5 separate regions of the Homo sapiens genome follow, and regions 2, 3, 4 and 5 are each linked to region 1. Evidence: fine-mapped expression QTL. A gene starts in region 1. Each other region holds a variant in brackets. All regions are shown on one strand. Distances are between the middles of the regions.

Evidence for each region. PIP is the estimated chance that this variant, and not a neighbour inherited with it, causes the effect. A credible set is the group of variants that fine-mapping cannot tell apart.
Region 2: its variant is the best candidate, but not a certain one, in a credible set for the expression of NAP1L4 in whole blood (TOPMed, PIP 0.58).
Region 3: its variant is the best candidate, but not a certain one, in a credible set for the expression of NAP1L4 in nucleus accumbens (GTEx, PIP 0.57).
Region 4: its variant is the best candidate, but not a certain one, in a credible set for the expression of NAP1L4 in activated naive CD4 T cells (Schmiedel 2018, PIP 0.84).
Region 5: its variant is the best candidate, but not a certain one, in a credible set for the expression of NAP1L4 in skeletal muscle (GTEx, PIP 0.57).

Annotation. Positions count from the first base shown.
Region 1 is chr11:2,990,312-2,994,426 of GRCh38, forward strand. It overlaps NAP1L4 (nucleosome assembly protein 1 like 4), which reads right to left and starts at 2,018. Exons shown (of 16, transcript NM_005969.4): 1 at 1,943-2,018. RefSeq lists enhancers at 587-1,443, 1,988-2,282.
Region 2 is chr11:2,965,614-2,969,728 of GRCh38, forward strand. The region is part of intron 7 of NAP1L4 (nucleosome assembly protein 1 like 4); the gene reads right to left. Among named protein-coding and RNA genes, the nearest start is that of SNORA54, 3.8 kb to the left of the region's middle. RefSeq lists an enhancer at 1-5 and a silencer at 713-913. The variant A/G (reference allele first, on the strand shown) is at 2,003.
Region 3 is chr11:2,941,137-2,945,251 of GRCh38, forward strand. It overlaps NAP1L4 (nucleosome assembly protein 1 like 4), which reads right to left. Exons shown (of 16, transcript NM_005969.4): 16 at 3,301-4,115. Among named protein-coding and RNA genes, the nearest start is that of PHLDA2, 14 kb to the left of the region's middle. The variant C/G (reference allele first, on the strand shown) is at 2,187.
Region 4 is chr11:2,935,978-2,940,092 of GRCh38, forward strand. No RefSeq gene overlaps it. Among named protein-coding and RNA genes, the nearest start is that of PHLDA2, 8.6 kb to the left of the region's middle. The variant C/CAGTGTGAATACGCTT (reference allele first, on the strand shown) is at 1,937.
Region 5 is chr11:2,914,461-2,918,575 of GRCh38, forward strand. SLC67A1 (solute carrier family 67 member 1) reads left to right here. Exons shown (of 11, transcript NM_002555.6): 6 at 2,162-2,280; 7 at 3,528-3,635. Among named protein-coding and RNA genes, the nearest start is that of PHLDA2, 13 kb to the right of the region's middle. RefSeq lists an enhancer at 1-468. The variant G/T (reference allele first, on the strand shown) is at 2,085.

The DNA.
Region 1 (4,115 bases):
CTCTAAGTAAACTTGTGAACTACTACTAAATAACTAATTTTCTCTCTCTCTGTAGTCACTCATTTTATCTTTGGATTACTTTCCCATTCTATCACCACGTTGCTTTCTCTGAACTTCATTTTACATTTGCATATTATTTATTCCATTAGCAATTGCTCATCCCAGTCTGAATCTCAAAATTCTACTATAGGAGGCATTTGGCATTCTGTGGAATAAGAGAATTTTGAGATGGAAATGATCAACCAGCTCAAAACCTCGTAAGCTAGAGTTCAGTTAAGCTTAGCACAATGATGAAAACAATTTCTCATTAAAACTTCTTTCATTCCCTCTACAGAAGCAGTAACCCTGGGTACAGTTAAAACTGCCTGGGTCTTTAAGCTTTGTCACCTCGGACAAGTCATTATACCTAACCTCCCAGGGCCTCAGCTTCCAGAGTAGTTAAATGGAAAAACAATAGCATCTATCTCAGGTTATTAGATTATGAAATGAGTTAACACACGCAAACAGGCTGAAAGAGTCCCTGGTGCGCAGTGCAGGTATTAGTCATTTAGAGGTATAGTTACTATTACAGGAAGGTAGTAACTTAGAAAGACTTACCTTTAAGGTCCAACAACCTAATCTACATATTTGTATATTTCTAAGGTAAGAGAATTTTTAAAAGTCTATTTTCACCCCGTAAACCTAATGCAGGAGGATAAGGCACGGGTTACTACAGGAAAAAGTAATGCAGACTGGGGGATGCGAACCAAAGCACAGACGAATGTGCCCCGACGATTCCTCCGAGAACATAATGAAATGGCGGACCTTCCTGCCAGAGGAGCGCACAGTCACCCAGGCAGGTGATGTGACACACACGTTAGGGTCTAAAGGTCCCAAGGCTGGAGTCCCCTTTACTGGACCCTAAACATGTCTGCCTCCTGCCCCGCAATCAGACTTAGAGAACTGTGGACGGTGGAAAGTCTTATCATGACCAGGCCATCCTTCGCTGGGGTGAACGGAAAGCATTCAGAAGGGGAAAATTGAAAACAACAAAGACTCTGGTCAGGTCAAAAAATACAAATGTGACCTCTTCCACCATCTCTGAACTGAAAGAAAAGCATGGCACTTTCCCATCCATAACATGTACAATTTTTTTTTTTGGAGATTTTGCTTTTCCCTTGTGAAAGACGGTTTTAAATAGTAAACAGACTTGCTGCCCACCTTGGCTGGGAAACCAAGTCCCGTGAGTAACTAGTCTAAGGCCACTCAGGCCAGTCCTCGGGGAGCGCACGCCGCCCAGCTCGCTCCCACCGCACAGCTCCCAACAGCTAAGAAGCAACGCCAAGGACTTTCTTCCCCGTCAGACATGCCCTCGGCCACACCAAACTGACATCAAAACCCCAGTTAGCCCAGCCTGACCCCACAGAGGCTCACGATGACAACCGCCCTACGGAAAAACTCAAATTCCTAAACATCTAATAAAGAAGTCCTGGACGTCTCCACCTTAAAAACGGGAAGCCTGAACGCTCCGGCGCGCCCGGCCGTGTAACCGCCACAGCCCCCGCACGCGGGGCGGGCTGGGCTAGCGGGAGATTTGAGCGGCCGCCGCCTCTCGCCGTCTTCGCCTCCTCCAAGGGGCCGCCGCCCAGGAGGCCGCCCGCGGCGCAGAACAAAGCGCCTTGACCTTCAGTGAGGCGGGCAGCCGGGCGAGGCGCGCCGGGAGTTGGGAGGGGCCTCCCGCCAGCGCCCCAGGCCCGGGCTCCAGGCCCCAAGCCCCAGGCCCCGCCGCGGCCGCCGCTGCCTGCCCCGACCAGAACGCGGCCCCGCCCCTGCCCCACCGCCCCGAGGCTTCCAGAGATGGCCGCCGCCGCGCCCGCGCCGGACCCGCGGCCCCACCCGCCCGTCCGGGCCCGGCCGCCCTCCCCAGCGCGCCGTTACCGGCCCAGCACCCGTGTCTCCGCACCTCACGCCTCCTGCGGCAGTGGCGGCGACCCTAGCTTCGCTCGCTTTGGGGCTGCGCCGCCGTGGCCTCCAACAACGCCGGCTCCCATTGGCCGAGGCTCCTAGCTCCTCTCTCCGCGAGCAAGACAGGCTGCGATTCGCCGAGCGCGGCGCAAGTCAACTGCGCTTCGCGCCGCAGTCAGCAACCAATCACAAGCCTCCGAAGAAACGCCGCGCCATATGCAAATATTCCTCCGCGCGGCGCGCGCCCTGCGTTCCTCCGCCTCTTTAAATGGGGCGGGGCAAGGTGGAGACCGCGTGTGTGGTTCCGGGGGGTCCCGGGTCCCCGCTCCCGGGACCTTCCCCGGGTGGCACCACATCCTCGCGGGACACTGGGCACCACCCCTCTCCGTGGGCCCCGGCCCCAGCCGTCTTTATCTCCTGCGCCCTCCCAGTTCCCTAGTTCAATCCCGTCCGCGGCGGGTCGGTGCCTCCAGCACTCCGTGCGCCCGCTGATGTGAGAACCCCACCTCCCATGTCGTCCCCTCGCGCTACTCCTTGAGAACATCGCGGAGGGCCCCTCCGCCTGGGAGCCGTTTTCAACCAGCCCCGTTAGTGGTTGGGACGTAAGCCTAACCCCCGCTCATCCCCCAGGTCCCAGGTTGGAGAACACTTCCTCTGCGAAGAGGTCGGGGCTGGGTCACCTCCGCGGACAGGACGGGACTAGCCACTGCCTGCATCTCTTCCCCCACGCCCTGAGCCCCGCAGTGTCCCAGCAGCCTAGTTCTGGCCTGCGGGAGACCCTGTCGGACAAGGAGGAAAAGCAGTGCGCACTGGGCCCTCAGATCAGCCCCCTGAAGCAGAGCAGGGCAGAGGGCTGGGGAGGAGCTGGCCTGTTTCGCCCGCCCTGTTCTCCCTCTCATGGTGCCCTCTGGGCTGGGGTGAAGGTACCAGCCCCAGCCTGTGCACATCACATTTTGTAGAAAGGCATCCAATTTGATTGGAAAATAACCCCTACGCTGGGACTTTTGAGGCTGGTTCATTTCCATGTTCAACCGTGCCATTGGGGGTCTTCAAGTCTAATGTGCATTTTTTTCAGAAACGTTCTCTTTTGGGATGACGTTACTTTTGAAACAATTGCTAATTATTATTATTATTAGCAAGTTATTCCTGTAATGGGGAAAATTTGAAACCATTTAAAGGCTCCTGGTTGAGGGATTAAGAACATAGCGTCGGTTATAAACCTCAGAGGTAAGCTGGGAGGCTGAGGCAGGAGGATTCCTTGAGCCCAGAAATTCAAGTCCAGCCTGGGCAACATAGTGAAACCTCATCTCTAAAAAGAAATTAATGCGGAGCGCCGTGGCTCAGGCCTGTAAACCCAGCACTCTGGGAGGCAGAGGCAACAAGTCCAGCCTGGGCAACATAGAGCACCCTTCCCCTGCTCCAAAAACAACAACAACAAAAAATTACCCAGGCGTGGTGGCTCAGGCCTGTAATACCAGCTACTTGGGAGGCTGAGGTGGGAGAATTACCTGAGCCCGTGAGGTCAAGGCTGCAGTGAGCAGAGATTGGGCCACTGCACTCCAGCCTGGGTAACCAGAGGGGGACATTGTCTCAAAAAGACAAAAAAAAGGCCGGGCGCGGTGGCTCAAGCCTGTAATCCCAGCACTTTGGGAGGCCGAGGTGGGCCGATCACGATGTCAGGAGATCGAGACCATCCTGGCTAACACGGTGAAACCCCGTCTCTACTAAAAATACAAAAAAATTAGCCGTGCATTGTGGCGGACGCCCTAGTCCCAGCTACTCGGGAGGCTGAGGCAGGAGAATGGCGTGAACCCGGGAGGCGGAGCTTACAGTGTGAGCCGAGATCGCACCACTGCACTCCAGCCTGGGCGACAGAGCGAGACTCCATCTCAAAAAATAAAAAATAAAAAAAAAACTAATTAAAACAAAAAACATAAAAACCCCTCAGAGGTGACCGGTGCATGGCTGAGGCCTGACCCACACAGCGTGCTCAGTCCTGTCTGGCCATCTGTGTTTTAGGAGAGGGTGTGTGTGCTCTCAATTCCTATTTTACTTATTTAGACTTTCAGACTTTTCTACAAAGGTCATGCTTTATGCTTTGCGGAAGCATAAACAATGATAGAAATGACACAAGAACCTGGGCATTTGAAGTTTGGAGGGTCCTTCCTCCC
Region 2 (4,115 bases), 25 kb before region 1:
TCTTGGTCACTGCAAGCTCCGCCTCCCGGATTCAGCCTCCCGAGCAGCTGGGACTACAGGCACCCGCCAACCATGCCCGGCTAATTTTTTGTATTTTTAGTAGAGACGGGGTTTCACCGTGTTAGCCAGGATGGTCTCGATCTCCTGACCTTGTGATCCACCCACCTCGGCCTCCCAAAGTGCTGGGATTACAGGCGTGAGCCACCGCGCCCGGCCACACACGGTTACTTCTTTAAGAACACTTACACAGAGCGTGTCTGAGATCCAACTTGCGGGCACCATGGAAGAGTGGGCATCATGGAAGAGCGTACAATTCTTATCTGTGTCTGTATCATTTTACAAGTGATATTTCTTTAAACTCATTTTGCCAATACCTGTCAGCTTAGAAAGTCCCAGTGAGGAAAGTCAGAAGAGGAGTGGGAAGACCTGAATCCTCAGAAACACGCACTGGCAGCAGGCACTTCATTTGTAACATGGCAGTCACTTCTTTACCCCCAAAGTCTGGGCACTGAATCTCAAAATGTCTTGAAGTTGCATTAAGTTTTTCTTAAATCATTTTTTCTCTTTTTTAGTTGTATGTAATAATTGTACTATTTATGGGACACAGTGACATTTTGATGCACGTACACAATGTGTAATAAATCAGGACCATCACCTCAAACATTTATTTTTGAACATTCAAAACCCGTCCTCTAGCTTTCTGAAAACACGCACTAAATTATCGTTAGCCACATTCACCCTACAGTGCTACAACACACCAGAACTTACTCCTCCAATCTAGCAGTCACTCTGTATCTGATAACAGACCTCTCCCTATTTATCCTCCCCTCTCTCTCCCTCTTAGCCTTTATCAACAATTCTCTGCTTCGGTGAGCTGTTTTTGTAGCTCCCACATGAGTGTGAACGTGAGGTATTTCCCCCCTTTCTGTGCCTGATTTTCCGTTGAGTCCTAATTTTCAACTCTTCTGACATAAAACAAAACAAAAACAGCAACAAAAAGATACCTGCAAGTATCTAGACAAAAAGTAACCCAAAGGCAGTTGTGAAATGGGCCACACCTGCATGCGATGTTCAGTCTCCAATGCTGCGCGTGCCACCCACAGAAGCATGCGCTGGCTCTAGATCACCAAGATGAGCACTTCCACCAGCATGCTTTCCAGAGATGGCACTGGGACTTCAAACTCATCCCACTCAAAGACGCAGTGCCCACTCATGTTTTCCCAAACTTCATAAAATAACCATTATGTTCTAATTTCCTCAAGCAGCCATGTACCCTGTGGGTCAAAACTTTAAATGTCCAGGGCAAATATTAAGGTAATGCCCCACACTGGCAGACGCTCAGACTCAGGAAGCAAAGGCACAACACTGGAGGCATCGCACTCAGATCGTAAAGCCACCATCTCAAATTTTCCACTCTCCTTGCAGAAATATATTTCAACTATCCCCAAATTTAGAACAAAGGGACTCAGAGTTAATCCGCCTTTGGAATTTAATATTTGACCAAAATGAGCTGGGCATAGTGGCGCATATCTACAGTCCCAGCTACTCGAGAGGACCCCTTGAGGCCAGGAGACTGAGACAGCAGTGTCCTGACTGTGCCTATGAAAAGCCACTGACCTCTAGGCTGGGCATCATAGCAAGACCATGTCCCTTAAAAATGAAAGGGCTTCTCTCAGAAATGGCAGACTTCAAAACCAGACATTAAAAAACAACTGTTGGCCGGGCACGGTGGCTCACGCCTGTAATCCCAGCACTTTGGGAGGCCAAGGCAGGCGGATGATGAGGTCAGCAGATCGAGACCATCCTGGCTAACACAGTGAAACCCCGTCTCTACTAAAAATAAAAAAATTAGCCAGGCGTGGTGGCGGATGCCTGTAGTCCCAGCTACTCGGGAGGCTGAGGCAGGAGAATGGCGTGAACCCAGGAGGTGGAGCTTACAGTGAGCCAAGATCACGCCACTGCACTCCAGCCTGGGCGACAGAGCGAGACTCCGTTAAAAAAA[A/G]AAAAAAAAGAAAATATTGTTAAAAAAAAAAATCAAAATAGAATATGCTACCATTACCTGCTATGAGGTTACAAACAGTACAAATAACATTTCCTCATTCTCTGCATATTAAATGAGTACTCTATCAACCCCTGCATATCTTTTTAAAGCTGTTAAAACAAAAAGCAACAAAAGACACTTCATGGCTGAAATGCTGAAGCACTGACACTACTACAGAGGTGCTGGGAGAATGAGAAGGGACACCCCATTTAAAATGTGGCCAAATGCCTCACTGTGCTCTCAAAACCCAAGGCAGCACTATCCATGGCCAGTGACCCCAATGCCATAACCAGGTGGCCACACGCACAGAAGGGGACACCAAAACTCACTCAAGTCACCTAACTCTAGCTCCCAAACCCTGTTATCACTGCACCCCCAATCCCACGTGAAGATGCTCCAACCCTGCAGTGCAAGAATCACCCCAGGGCCCATGAGCCAGACAGCCCCACAGAACCAGAATCCGCACTGCCATGGCCACTCCCCATGCCCCCCGAAGTCTGAGAAGAACGAACTAAGAGCTAGTCTTTCCACCTGCTCCCTGCCATGGAGATTTTCAACTCTCAGGGTGCACATTAGAGTTCCTAAAACCAACTCAAAACTCTCAGTGCCATGGTGACAGATGAGGCATTTAGTTTTTGCTATTTAGTTTTCAAAGCTGCTCAGGTGATTGTAATACACAGGGTGAGACTACGGCTCTGGTAGACATTACTTAATTTTTCCAATGAAATTCTGGTGCATGGCATTCTTTTAAAAGTATGGTCTAGTCTTCTTAAATTCCACCTTTTCATATGAAAAGGAAGCTCAGATCAGGAAAAACCAAGGCTGTTCTATTTTAGATGCTTTCTGGTCTGGAAGGAGAATAAGAAATACATCATTCTTTCCATCTTTTCTCAAGTTTTGGCTTAGGACACAGGACAAGCATTAAACAAGGGAGGTAGCAGAGGCAGCAATGTGATACATTTGTGAAAACCATTAAAAACCGTAGCTGTAAAATCCTGTGCAAATTACAATGTAGCAGTTTGCAACGCACAGTGCCTATGCTCTGTGATGGGAGAAGCACTCTGCCCACACAAGCAGAGCCTGCAGCTGTCCTGAGCAAGTCTGAATGCAGACGTGCTGTTTCTGGGGACGCTGGAGCAATAAAAACTGACGGCAAGTCAGTCAGTGAGACTTAAGGCAAGATTTGTTTCTCTGTTCTAGAAACTTCTATTATAACTCATTTCAGGGAAAACCAAATTTGTTACCTTTTAATTTGTTCACCATTTCACTACAGAAAGTGAAATGTCAAGGCAAGACAAAATCAGAAATGGTGGTTGGGTTTTGTTGTTGTGTTGTTTTTTTTTTTTTTTTTTTTTGGAGACAGGGTCTCGTCACCCACCAGGATGGAGTGCAGCACCGTGATCACAGCTCACCACAGCCTCAACCTCCTCGGCTCAGGTGATCCTCCTGCCTCAGCCTCCCAAGTACCTGGGACCACAGGCGCACACCACAACGCCCAGCTAACTTTTCTATTTTTTGTAGAGATGGGATTTCGCGATGCTGCCCAGGCTGGTCTCAAACGATCTGCCTACCTTGACCTCCCAAAGTGCTGGGACTACAGACATGAGCCACCATGCCTGGCCTCTTTTTTTAAAAAAAATAGACACTTTTTCAAGAGAAATGATCAGAAAATATTAGCAACTTGTTCAAAAATTCACTGAGATGTGTGTGTACACACACACACACAAACAAACACACAGCTCATCCCTTCAAAATTCATTCTGCTCTGGTCTCCTGCCCTCACCCTTTCCTGCACACTCACACCACAGGAAGACAGAGATGGGCTCTGGAATCTATTCATAGGCTTTCCCACAGGCAAGACAACAGAGCTTTACAAGAGGTAAAAGGAACTGATTTGAAAGTTTTGGATCAGGCTGAAGCGCCCAGCTTTCCACCAAGAACTGCAAAAGACAGCATGGAAGCCCCACTGTGAATAAACCATTCACTGTGAGATCAGGACTGCTCATCTGAGGTCCTGGTCAGAGAAAGTGCCCTTCCGCCCACTATGAACAATCTTTCAATGCCCAGTGTAGTG
Region 3 (4,115 bases), 49 kb before region 1:
GAAGGAACCTGGGAAGGCACCTGTTCTGAGGGTTTTGGGGCAGAGGCCGAAGTCCATGCCAGGCTGTGGCCAGGCTGGCCTGGCTGGCAGGGAACCACAGGCTTCTGCACACAGCAACCCCTTCTGCAGGCCCAGGGCTCCCTCAGGGCACTGCAGCTGGAGTTGGCTGAGTCTGGGACGGTCACTTCTCCCACCGCTGCCCCTGGCTGTTCCTCTGTTGCTCACCAGTTGCCCAGCCCTGAGCCCTGACTCAGAGCCAGGCAAGCCAAGGACCCAGCAGGGGCAGGTCAGAGGTCAGTAATATCAAGGTGTGCCTGGATGAGCCAGGCAGAGGCCAGGGGCTCCACCTACCCACCTGGCTGGCTGGTGGAGCCAGCTGGCTGCCCCCTACCCACCCCACCCCTGCCTCCCACCTCAGGGGCAAGCTTGGATCCTGGCAGCTCATGCTGACTCAGCCTGCCCAGCGATGGGGCTGGGGGCAGCCTAGGGCATTTTGAGAGTGGGACAAGATGGGTGGGGTGGCAGGAAGCCCTGGACCTGGGACTTGGGGAAGGGGGCTCTGGCCCCATGGGTGGCCCTTGGGCCTGGGGAGGTTTGCTGGGCAGCAGGACAGGAGCAGAGTGGGATGTCGGCTTGGTCCCAGCTCCACATAAACGGGAGTCATGAGCCTAGAGAGCAGACTGGCCAGGTAGGCTGACCTGGGGTACACACCACCCGCGGACCCACACGCCAGGCAGCTGTGGACAAGGGTCCCAGGTGACCCTGCTGGGGAAAGCAGCAGCCATCAGGTTCTAGGGAGCCATAGCTCCTGACTCAAGGGAAAAAACAGAATTTTAAGTGGAATCACCCTGTTTTGGGGACTTCTGAAAACTGAGCTTCAGGCCAGGCACGGTGGCTCACACGTGTAATCCCAGCACTTTGGGAGGCCAAGGTGGGTAGTTCACCTGAGGTCAGGAGTTCGAGACCAGCCTGGCCAACATGGTGAAACCCCATCTCTACTAAAAATACAAAAATTAGCCAGGTGCAGTGGTGCATGCCTGTCATCCCAACTACTTGGGAGACTGGGCAGGAGAATCGCTTGAACCTGGGAGGTGGAGATTGCAGTGAGCCGAGATGGTGTCACTGCACTCCAGGCTGGGCAATGGAGCGAGTCTCCGTCTCAAAAAAAAAAACAACGCTGAGCTTCATTGAGGACTAACTTATATACAACCAAATATACCCATTTTTGATGTAACTCAATGAATTCTGACAGACGTATACACCTGTGTAACCACTTCCATCCCTCTAAAGCGTTCCTTGGTCAGTCCCCCCACCCCAGATCCCTCCCAGGCAGTCACCGGCACTATAGCTTTGCAGGCTCTAGAACCGGACAGAAACAGGGCCCTCCAGGTCTTCTGTGCCTGGCTGCTTGCCGTGCGGGTTCTTTCCCTCCTTGCCCAGGAGCACCCGTGTGATGGCAGCTGACAGAAGCGTCTGAGCCACCTGTGCAGGGGGTGGGGGTGCCCCAGGCCCCACCTCCCATCTCCCGGGCTGCTCCCCAAACTCCTGCCCTGACCCCAGCGCCACTGGTTTTGAGTCTCAGTTCCCGCACAGGGTGAACAGTCACAGGAAGGGCAGGGGCTGGGGGAGCCCCAAGCGGGGTGGGGTGGGTGGGGCGGGGCTGGACGGTGAATGTCTGCCTCCCCAGCCAGGGGCTGAGTCGGGAAAAAGGAGGGCCTGGGCTAGCAGAGCTGAGGTTCTGTGGCAGACCCCCTGGCCTCCAGGACCAGAAGGGAAGCAGCCACCCTTCACCCAGGCCAGGCTGGGCGGCCGCCACAAGCCCCCACTTCCCAGCTGCCTTCCAGATGGTGGCTCTGGGCAAACCTCTCAACCACTCAGCGACTTTCGGTGACCACTGATGGCTGAGGTTCCTGAGCTGACAATGGCCTGGGCCTGGGATGGTTCCTGGGCTCCTTGGCCACTGGAGAATGACCTTCCCTTTTCTGAGACCCTGGGGTGCAGGCAGGACACGGCGGCCATGCAGGGGTGACAGAGGCCGGAGGTGCTGAGGTCCTGGGGGAGACCAGGTTGCCTGCACCCTCGGGCCTCCACAGCTCCCCAGGCTTCACGTTGAGGTCCTGCACCCAGATGTCCTTGGAACTGGGCAGCATCCACGAACCATGCACTCCCAAGGTCAGACTCACTGG[C/G]GGACACAGGAACCCAGCTCAGTGAAGGATGCACGCAGGTGGGTGCAGGGTTCTCACACACTTCTTACTCAAAAGGGAAAATCCAGATACCCCCACCCCCAGAAGCCACAATGTTAAGCCCTTTCCCCTGCTTGTGCAAATCTGATCGAAAAGTGCAAATCTGATCTAAAACCACCCAGCTAGGTAGTGAGGGGCACTCCCCAAGCCTGTGGAGCCCTTCCTAAAAAGGCACTCTGGGCACCCAGTGGACAGGGCAGTGTGCAGGGCTGTCTCCGCAGCTGAAGGGCGGGTCACTGCAAAACAGCATATGCCCCTTGGATTATGGGGTCTGACCCTGGGCAGACCAAGTAAGGCCAGGGTGCTGCTCACCCATGGGGCCACCCTGAGGCTGGGGAGCCTGAGACCAAGCTCCCCCAGGTACTTCACAGGATGGGGACGGAGGAACGGGTGCAGGAAGCACAGACATCAGGCTCCCCGGCCCTTGGGGGTATGCTGCAAGCATTCACTTCCCAGCCTGCACCTGCCCTTCCTGCTGCTCCCAGAGAGAAGGCAGCCCACGGGTGAGCTGGAGGCAGCAGGGCGGGGCCAGCCACGTGGGGAGCAATGAGCCAGCTCCACGGCTGCCTTCTCATGACAGCGTTTCATTCACCAGGCGGCGCTGCCAAGGCTGGGATTCCCACGGTCAGGTCAGGAAGTGCCTGTGCAGCAGGTGTTGAGTGCCTCCTCTCATTGTGGATGGAAGAGACACGGGGAAAAGCTTCAGAGAGCAAACACACCTAACATGGGCTTTATCAGGAAGTTCTCCTCTTGGAGCCTTCTGGATCTACAAAGCACAGTCCCACTAACTCTGAGAAATGATCCCCTCCTGGGGGCAGGAACAGTCTTCCCCTGGGCCCGCAGTGAAGCTGCCTGCATACAGCAGCAACTTAGGTGTAGTGGGGGGGCTACAGCAGCCTCTGCCTCAAACTGAGCTTTCAAGGCCTCAGAAGTAAACTGTACAACCGGTCTTGGAGCCACCAATACCCAGGGCTCAACAGAGCCCAACAGGTGTGCAGCACATCTGAGCCTTCCCCACCACATTCCCCTGCAAAGACCCACATGGCACAGTGCTGACTCAATGTTTCACCACTTTAATAGAATATTCTAACTATTCTGTACAAATTGAAAACACTGTATTCAGTTACAAATGTGTTCTAAGGTTAGGCCGAGCACTCTCCACAGGCCTGGTCAGTGCGGACACGGCCATCCCCGGCTGCCGGAGAGCGCCGTCACCCACTTGAAAACCCCACCCACCAGCCGCCAAGCGGTCACACCAAACCCAGGACCTTCAGACAGGATGAATGGTGGGGCCCCGCAATGGGGCTACTGAGAAAGCAGGACTTGACGCTCATACGCTCCACTGAAACGCAGGACTTCCCAGCCCAGTCCCTCAGTGGAGAAGACTGCCGAAGCCCGGCTCCGGCAGCAGGGTGGCGCCTGCGTCATGAGGACGGGCTCGCATCTTCAGCCCTGGTGGCAGGGAGCGGCGTTTCTTCCGCACAGGCCTTGCGCCTGCTAGGAAGTGGCACATCTTCCTGCTCAGGGCACCAAGGTGGTTCAGAAACGTTAAGGACGAGCCACAGCGAAAAGCCGCAGTCCTCACAGGCAAGAAGGGATAAATAAATATGAGGTGACCCGCAGCAGCTCTCACCTGGGCTGGTGTGTCACAACCCTGACCCACCCCTAAAAAAAAAAAAAAATCAAGAAGCAACATCCTAAGGAGAACAGGGCCCTACTCTACACAGCCCTTTCTGAGATGATCGGCATACAGCAGGTGATGCAGGCTGCACACTCAGCAGATTCAGCGGCTGGAAACAGCAAGTGGGTTTCTTCGGATGAAAGGGAAGAATTCAGTCCAACTGCAGGAGGGGTGGGAGAGGTTCCAGATCC
Region 4 (4,115 bases), 54 kb before region 1:
AAAATGAAAAAAAAAAAAAAATAATAAAAACAAAATTGAGTGTTCATCTCTCATGTCCCCACCTAGGGCCACTCTCATCCTTTTTTGTTTGTTTGTTTGAGATGGGGTCTTGCTCTGTTGCCCAGACTGAGTGCAGTGGCGTGATCTTGGCTCACTGCAACCTCCGCCTCCCAGGCTCAAGCAATCCTCTCGCCTCAGCCTCCTGAGTAGCTGGGACCACAGGTGTGTACCTCCATACCCAGCTAATTTTTTGTATTTTTGTAGAGACAGGGTTTCACCGTGTTGCCCATGCTGGTCCTGAACTCCTGAGCTCAAGCAATCCACCCATGTCAGCCTCCCAAAGTGCTGAGATTACAGACATGAGCCACTGAGCCTGGCCTCTTTTTGTTTTATTATTATTATAAATTTTTGAGACAGGGTCTTGCTCTGTCACCCAGACTGGAGTGCAGTGGTGCAATAATGGCTCACTGCAGCCTTGACCTCCTGAGGTTGTGATCCTCCCACCTCAGCCTTCTGAGTAGCTGGGACTACAAGGCACATGCCACCATGCCTGGCTACTTTGTATATTTTTTGTAGAGATGGGGTCTCACTGTGTTTCCCAAGCTGGTCTTGAACTCCTGGGCTCAGGCAATCCGCCTGCCTCATCCTCCCAAAGTATTGGAATTACAGGTGTGAGCCACTGTGCCTGGCCTCATCCTTTTTAAAAAAGCATTTACATTTCCTTTAACAATTGATTTTTGTTTGTTTGTTTTTGAGACGGAGTCCCACTCTGTCATCCAGGCTAGAGTGCAGTGGCACGTTCTTGGCTCTCTGCAACCTCCGCCTCCTGGGTTCAAGTGATTCTCCTGCCTCAGCCCCCTGAGTAGCTGGGACTACAGGCATGTGGCACCACGCCCGGCTAATTTTTTTGTATTTTTAGTAAAGATGGGGTTTCACCATGTTGTCCAGGCTGGTCTTGAACTCCTGCCCTCAGGTGATCCACTTGCCTTGGCCTCCCAAAGTGGTGGGATTACAGGAGTGAGCCACAGCACCCAACCTCCTTTAATAATTAAATATAGGATTGCCCTGTGATCCAACAATTCCACTTCTCATTCACATGCTCACAAGAACTAAAAGTTAGAGTCTCTCCTAGAGATCCATGCACACCCATATTCCCAGCAGCATGCCAAAAGGTAGAAGCCACCAAGTATCCACTGACAATGGGCACACACGATGTGGTCCACACACACACTGAATAGTCACTGCCTTAAAATGGAAGGGAAATCTGGTCGGGCACGTGGCTCACACCTGTAATCCCAGCACTTTGGGAGGCCAAGGCAGGTGGATCACCTGAAAAATTGGCCAGGCGTGGTGATGCCTGCCTGTAATCCCAGCTACTTGGAAGGCTGAGGCAGGAGAATCGCTTGAACCCAGGAGGCGGAGGTTGCGGTGAGCCAAGATTGCACCATTGCACACCAGCCTGGGCAACAAGAGTGAAACTCCATCTCAAAAAAAAAAAAAAAAAAAAGGAAGGGAATTCTAACACAAGCTACAGCACGGATGGACTCTGAGGACACTATGCTGAGTGAAATAAGCCAGACACAAAAAGACAAGTACTGAATGATTCCACATGTACCAGGTCCCAAGAGTCGTCAGATTCAGAGACAGAAGGTAGGAGGGCAGGTGCCAGGAGCTGGAGAGGACAATGGGGAGTTTAATAGGGACACAGTTTCCATTTGGGGAGATGAGAAATCATGGAGGCAGATGCTGATGGCGGCTGCATGACAGTGTGAATATGCTTAGTGTGAATATACTCAGTGTGAATACGCTCAGTGTGAATATGCTGAGTATGCTCGGTGTGAATATGCTCAGTGTGAATATGCTCAGTGTGAATATGCTCGGTGTGAATACGCTCGGTGTGAATACGCTCGGTGTGAATATGCTGTGTGAAAATGCT[C/CAGTGTGAATACGCTT]GGTGTGAATACGCTTGGTGTGAATACGCTTGTAATATGCTCGGTGTGAATATGCTTTGTGTGAATATGCTTTGTGTGAAAATGCTTAGTGTGAATACGCTCAGTGTGAATACGCTCGGTGTGAATATGCTCGGTGTGAATATGCTCGGTGTGGTGTGAATATGCTTGTAATATGCTCGGTGTGAATATGCTTTGTGTGAATATGCTTTGTGTGAAAATGCTTAGTGTGAATACGCTTAGTGTGAATACGCTCGGTGTGAATATGCTCGGTGTGAATATGCTCGGTGTGAATACGCTTAGTGTGAATACGCTCGGTGTGAATATGCTCGGTGTGAATATGCTCGGTGTGGTGTGAATATGCTTGTAATATGCTCGGTGTGAATATGCTCAGTGTGAAAATGCTTAGTGTGAATACGCTTAGTGTGAATATGCTTGGTGTGAATATGCTCGGTGTGAATATGCTTGGTGTGAATATGCTTGTAATATGCTCGGTGTGAATATGCTTTGTGTGAATATGCTGTGAATATGCTCAGTGTGAAAATGCTTAGTGTGAATACGCTTAGTGTGAATACGCTTAGTGTGAATATGCTTAGTGTGAATACGCTTAGTGTGAATATGCTCGGTGTGAATATGCTTAGTGTGAATACGCTGTGAATACGCTTAGTGTGAATATGCTCGGTGTGAATATGCTCGGTGTGAATATGCTCGGTGTGGTGTGAATATGCTTGTAATATGCTCGGTGTAAATATGCTCAGTGTGAAAATGCTTAGTGTGAATACGCTTAGTGTGAATATGCTTGGTGTGAATATGCTCGGTGTGAATATGCTTGGTGTGAATATGCTTGTAATATGCTCGGTGTGAATATGCTTTGTGTGAATATGCTTTGTGTGAATATGCTCAGTGTGAAAATGCTTAGTGTGAATACGCTTAGTGTGAATATGCTCGGTGTGAATATGCTCGGTGTGAATATGCTTAGTGTGAATACGCTGTGAATACGCTTAGTGTGAATATGCTGTGTGAATATGCTTAGTGTAACTATGCTTAGTGGCACTGAACTGTGCACTTTAAAAAATGGTTAAGAATGTAACTTGTGATGTACCCTTTACCAGTTTTAAAAATGCATTTACATATGAATATCCATGCAGGCGGGGGTATGAGCTTGTGTCTCTTCCTCTGTCTGGGCCATCTTCCAGGAACCCCCCACCCCAGCCCTCATTATCTGGAATCCTCCATGTCTCAGCCACCCCTTGTGATGGTTGGGCTTGGGCTGGGTCCCTGTTGCTGTCATCTTACATGGCACTGCCTTCCTGCACACCAGACATGGCACTGCTGGGCTAGCAAGGCCCTCAGATGTGTGGTAACTGCCAAAATGGCCTGCCAGTGGGGCTGTTCCTATTCACCCTTTCCCCCAAGGGCTGCAATGCCAATCTCCCCATGGCTAGGCCAATGGTGGGCACTCTGTACTTAAAAAAAAAAGTCAATCTGGGCAATAGCTCACGCCTGTAATCCAACACTTTGGGAGGTCAAGGTGAGTGGATCACTTGGGTTCAGGAGTTTGAGACCAGCCTGGCCCACATGGTGAAACCCTGTCTCTACTAAGAATAGAAAAAATTACCCTAGTGCAGTGGCATGCACCTGTAATCCCAGCTACTCGGGAGGCTGGGGCAGAAGAATTGCTTCACCCTGGGAGGTAGAGGTTGCAGTGAGCTGAGAAAGTGTCACTGCACTCCAGCCTGGGCCATAGAGTGAGACCCTGTCTCAGGAAAAACCAAACAACCAAACAAACGAACAAAACAACAACAACAACAACAACAAAACCCCACAATCTGGTGGTCAAAAACTGAGGTCTTCACACACATTTCTCTATCCCTGGGGTGGGGGCAGCCATCTCTCTGGGTGTCTGTGGCCTTTGGCGTGGCTGTCTTTTCCCCTCTTCATGTGCTTTGGTCTGTTTGAAAGACCCCTTTCATGGACTGAATGGTGGCCCCCAATAAGACATATCCATGTTCTACTCCCTGAAACCCACGAATGTTACCTTTGATGGCAAATGGGTGAACATGACCTTAGTGGCTAGGGTGTGATATAGGAAAGGCCCCTGAGAGCAGGAGCTTCCCCTGGACTACCCAGGTGGGCCTCACAAGGGAGAACTATGGAGAAGCAGGCATAGGGGTAGGAGGCC
Region 5 (4,115 bases), 76 kb before region 1:
CTGGCAGTTCATTTTTGGGGAGCAGGAGAGCTGTGACTGGGGAAGGACAGCCTGCGTCTCCCCCAGCAGCCACCCACGGCCCCTGGCACAGTGGTGGGACCTGACTCCCTACCTCCTGGGGCCCTCCAGGGTCCCCCAGCCCCAGGCTTTCCTGTTGCCCACAGCAGCACAGGCCTTTGGTTTACCCACCACCGCTCGAGGGCCTGGCTTCCTGCCACCATGCCTTGCTTGTCACCAGCCTCCTAAAATAGCCATCGAAGTGGTGCGTCTGCTCCTGTGTACTTCTGGGACATCTGGCAAATAAGGCAGGTTTTGCCCCTGCCCAGCCAGACCCTGAGCTGTGACACGCAGGCCTCTGAGGCCAGGGTCCCAAAGAAAGGGCCCGTCTCTCTGGGGCTGGCCACAGGGGCCAGTTGTCCCTCCTGCGCCATACATCTGTGCCTGCTGGCTGGAGGGACAAGCTGTGGCGCCCGAGCCCAGCCGTTCCCCTTCCCTGGCATTTTCCCAAAGGAAGGGCCCATTCGTGCGGAACCCCAGCAGCCAGAAAACCTGAGTAGCTGACGTCCTGGGCGGTGGGTGCTGCAGGAGTCGGAGCTGCCCTGATGGATTGGCGGGGGCAGCAGCACAGGTGGGGTGGATATGCCAGCACCCCCCTAGACTGATGTGAGCTTAGGGGTCCCACCTCAGAAATGAGGGGTGGCCAATGCCCAGACTCTCTGGACTCAGAGGTGGCCCCACTGACTGTCCTAGTCAGTGTGGCTCCAAGTCCCCTCCTTGCTCTGGCAAACGGATGCAGGTAAGTGTGTGTACAAGTTTGCCCGTGTGTGTGTGTGTGTGCGCATGTGGCTGCGGTGAAGAGGGGCGAGGAAAGTCCTTTCTTTGAACTCCTTGGTGGGGACATGGTGGCCTGTGGCTGGCCTTGTTTTTGGGTGCAAGGGCATCTTCCAGGACCCTGACCCCTACTGGGTGCCTGTGCCCTGAGGCCCTGGCCAGGGCAGATTTGGAGGATCTGTTGAGGTTGGGGCAGAACTTGTGCTGCGTGTGTGAATGGCTCACACATTTGTCCGATCATCTAATGATCACTGCGGTCTCCGCGCAGGGTCCAACCCTGGACCACCTGCCCTCAGGGGCCAGATTCTAGCCAGCTGGTAAAGCGAGTCCTTCTCAGATGGCATGCTGTCTGGGAAGGAGGGCTGGGGCCTCACCAAGAAGGGCCCTTGCAGGCTGTATAGGAGTTTGCTCAGCTGCTGAGAGGAAGGCCGTGGCGGTCCGGCACAGGCCTGGAGGCCTTACAGACGAGCTCAGTAGGAAGCCCCAACTTCCTCCTGTCTCTCCCTGAGGGGAGGGGGCTGGCTGAGCCCCCAGGAGGCAATGGTGACAGTTGGAACAGCCAGCTTCAGGTGCCTCCGTCCCCAGGAGACAAGACCTGCCGATTCCTTCCAGGGGAATCACAGGCCAAGTTTCCAGGTGGGGACTCATGGCAGGGAAGCTGACGGTACAGCCAGAGTCCCAGGCCTTGGTAGTGGCCCAGGAAGGTGGGAAGGTGGCAAAGCAGCCTGAGGGGCACCTCCGGGGCTTTGCAAGGCTCTGGGATCCCAGCCCAAAGCCCCCTCCAAGCCCAGCATGCCCCACACTCTAGAAAGTGGGGAGGGGCCAACAGGAGGGGGGTCGGTTTCTGAGGGCCTGCTGAATGCCAGGCCCACCCTTGCCCACGCTGGGGAGGCAGCATAGCCATCCCCATGACACAGCACAGGTGCCCAGGTCTCGGAGAGCCCCTCCCAGGGACATGCACACCAGGCTTGCCCTTTGGAGCCTCTCCTGACCTTGGCCAGCGTGGGAGCTGCTGTTCCTGGGAGGATCCGCCACCTGCCCCAGGCGCTCACCAGCCTGGCTTCCACAGCTGCTACCCACAGGGGCTGCCGGGGCCTGCATGGCGTGGCGAGGGTCAGGGATGGTGAGCGCCCCACCCATTCCTTCATCCATCACCTAATAAATGTGCTCTGAGGGTCCCAGTCCCCACTCTTTAGGCCACAGACTGTGGGGATGTGGGAGGTCAGATTTAAGCTATTTTAGTGCAACCAAAG[G/T]TGCAGGTTGGGGGATGTGGCTGGGGCGCCTGGGCCCTGGGACCCGCACCCTGTGCAGCCGAGGCTGTTGCCCGCAGGATTCAGTGCCCGGCCATCCTGGCTGCCCTGGCCACCCTCCTGGGAGCTGTCCTCAGCTTCACCTGCATCCCCGCCAGCACCAAAGGGGCCAAAACTGACGCCCAGGCTCCACTGCCAGGTAAGCCCCGCCAGGTACACCCTGCCCAGATGCTGGGGCAATGGAAGGCATTGGCTAGGCCTGCGTGCTCCAGCCAAGGGGTACGGGGGGCCTGAGGGGAAATCTGGGGGCTACTCACACCCTCCTGCCTTCCTTGAACCCTTCCCAGCTGCTGACATCATAGAAGCCAAGTGAGGTGTGGTCATGAAGAGGTGGAAGTGGGGCTCCGGCAGGCAGGGAGGCCCAGAGAGGCAGGAAGGCCCAGACAGGGAAGGCGTTAGGAGGGGAGGCCCAGACAGGGAAGGTGCTAGGAGGGGAGGCCCAGAGAGGCCTGGGGAGGACCAGGAGGGACCCCCCCAATGGGGTGGGTGGGCCAGCAAGGCTCCGGAAGCTCTGAGTGTCCAGGGAGAGGCGAGGGTGCTGCCCGAGGGGCACTCATTGGTGGAGGGCAGAGGATGGTCAGGCTGGTCCCATGAGGAGAGGCCAAGGCTCCTCAGAGGGGGTCCCCTCAAGGCTGGCCCCCTGCTGAACGCAGCCCCTTTGTGCCAGGCACGTGGCAGGGCCCATGCCTCGGTGCCTAGGGACTAAGAGCCCAGCCTGGGCCAGAGGGACCCACCTGGGACCATCCTGGGGCAGGAGGCTGTCATGGAATTAACCTAGAAAGTCCAGGGGGAGGGCCGGGTGGAGATGGGCCTGTGGCGAGCACAGCAGAGCCAGAGAGGCAGGAGCCCCTGAGACAATAAGGAGGAAGGACTCGGTGAGCCGGGCTGGGGGCCTGTGGCTTCGCACTCAGAGGTGCCCGGTGGGCCAGGCCACGGCGGTGACTTGTGGCCACAGAGAGTGGTACAGTATTGCCATTGTCTTCCTCTGGGCTGGTGGCCTGGTCATGCTCTGCCCCAGGCCCCAGGCCAGGACCATATAGGAAGCAGCTATTGGTCCCTTGTTCAGGGACTGCCGCAGGCCTCCGCCACTGCATGCCCAGGTTGAGGCCAGTCTACCTGCGTGCAGAGAATGCTTTTCCTAAGTGCCTCTGGGGATTCAGGGGGCCCCTAGGAATGCGTAGAAGTGTGCTGAGGGGCGGTGCCCAACCTGGCAGCTGGGAGCATCACCAGCTCCCATTCCCACAAGTGAGCGGTGCTGAAGCCAAGGAAGGAAGCTTTACCCTGGCGGGCGCAACAGGGCCCTCCGAATGGCGAGGCCTGCAGCCGGGCGAGGGGTGGGCATTGGGACAATGGCCTTTGCAGGCCTGAATGGCCTCTCCGTGCCAGGCGGCCCCCGGGCCAGTGTGTTCGACCTGAAGGCCATCGCCTCCCTGCTGCGGCTGCCAGACGTCCCGAGGATCTTCCTGGTGAAGGTGGCCTCCAACTGCCCCACAGGTGAGTCCCAACTACTGCCCCAACAGCGGCCAGAGCCTGGCAGAGTCCCAGCTGCGGCCAGGGCCCGGCCCTTCCTCTGGCCTGTGCCCCACAGGTCCACACAGATGTGGTAGAGCAGGCAGGAGCGGGAGGAAGGCAGAAAAGTGTCTTTCCCACCTCCTTCCAGCCCCTCTACACTGCACACCTGCAGATCCCAGGGTGGGCCCCCACGGGCAGAGGGCCTGGCTCGCAGCCATGCATCCCTGTGTGCTCCTCAGCTCTTACCCTCATACCCTGTGGCCCCACGTCCTCTCCAGACAGCCTGAGATGCAGGGACAGCAGGTCTGAGTGTCACCACTGCCTTCTGCAGCATGCTGGCCCTGGGCCCTCTCAGCAGACCGTAGGGCGTCACGGACCACAGATAGGATAGCGAGCCACGGACAAGCCCACGAGCAGCCCTGTCCCTCAGAAGCCCCGCCTGGACTCCTCTAACTGAGAAGC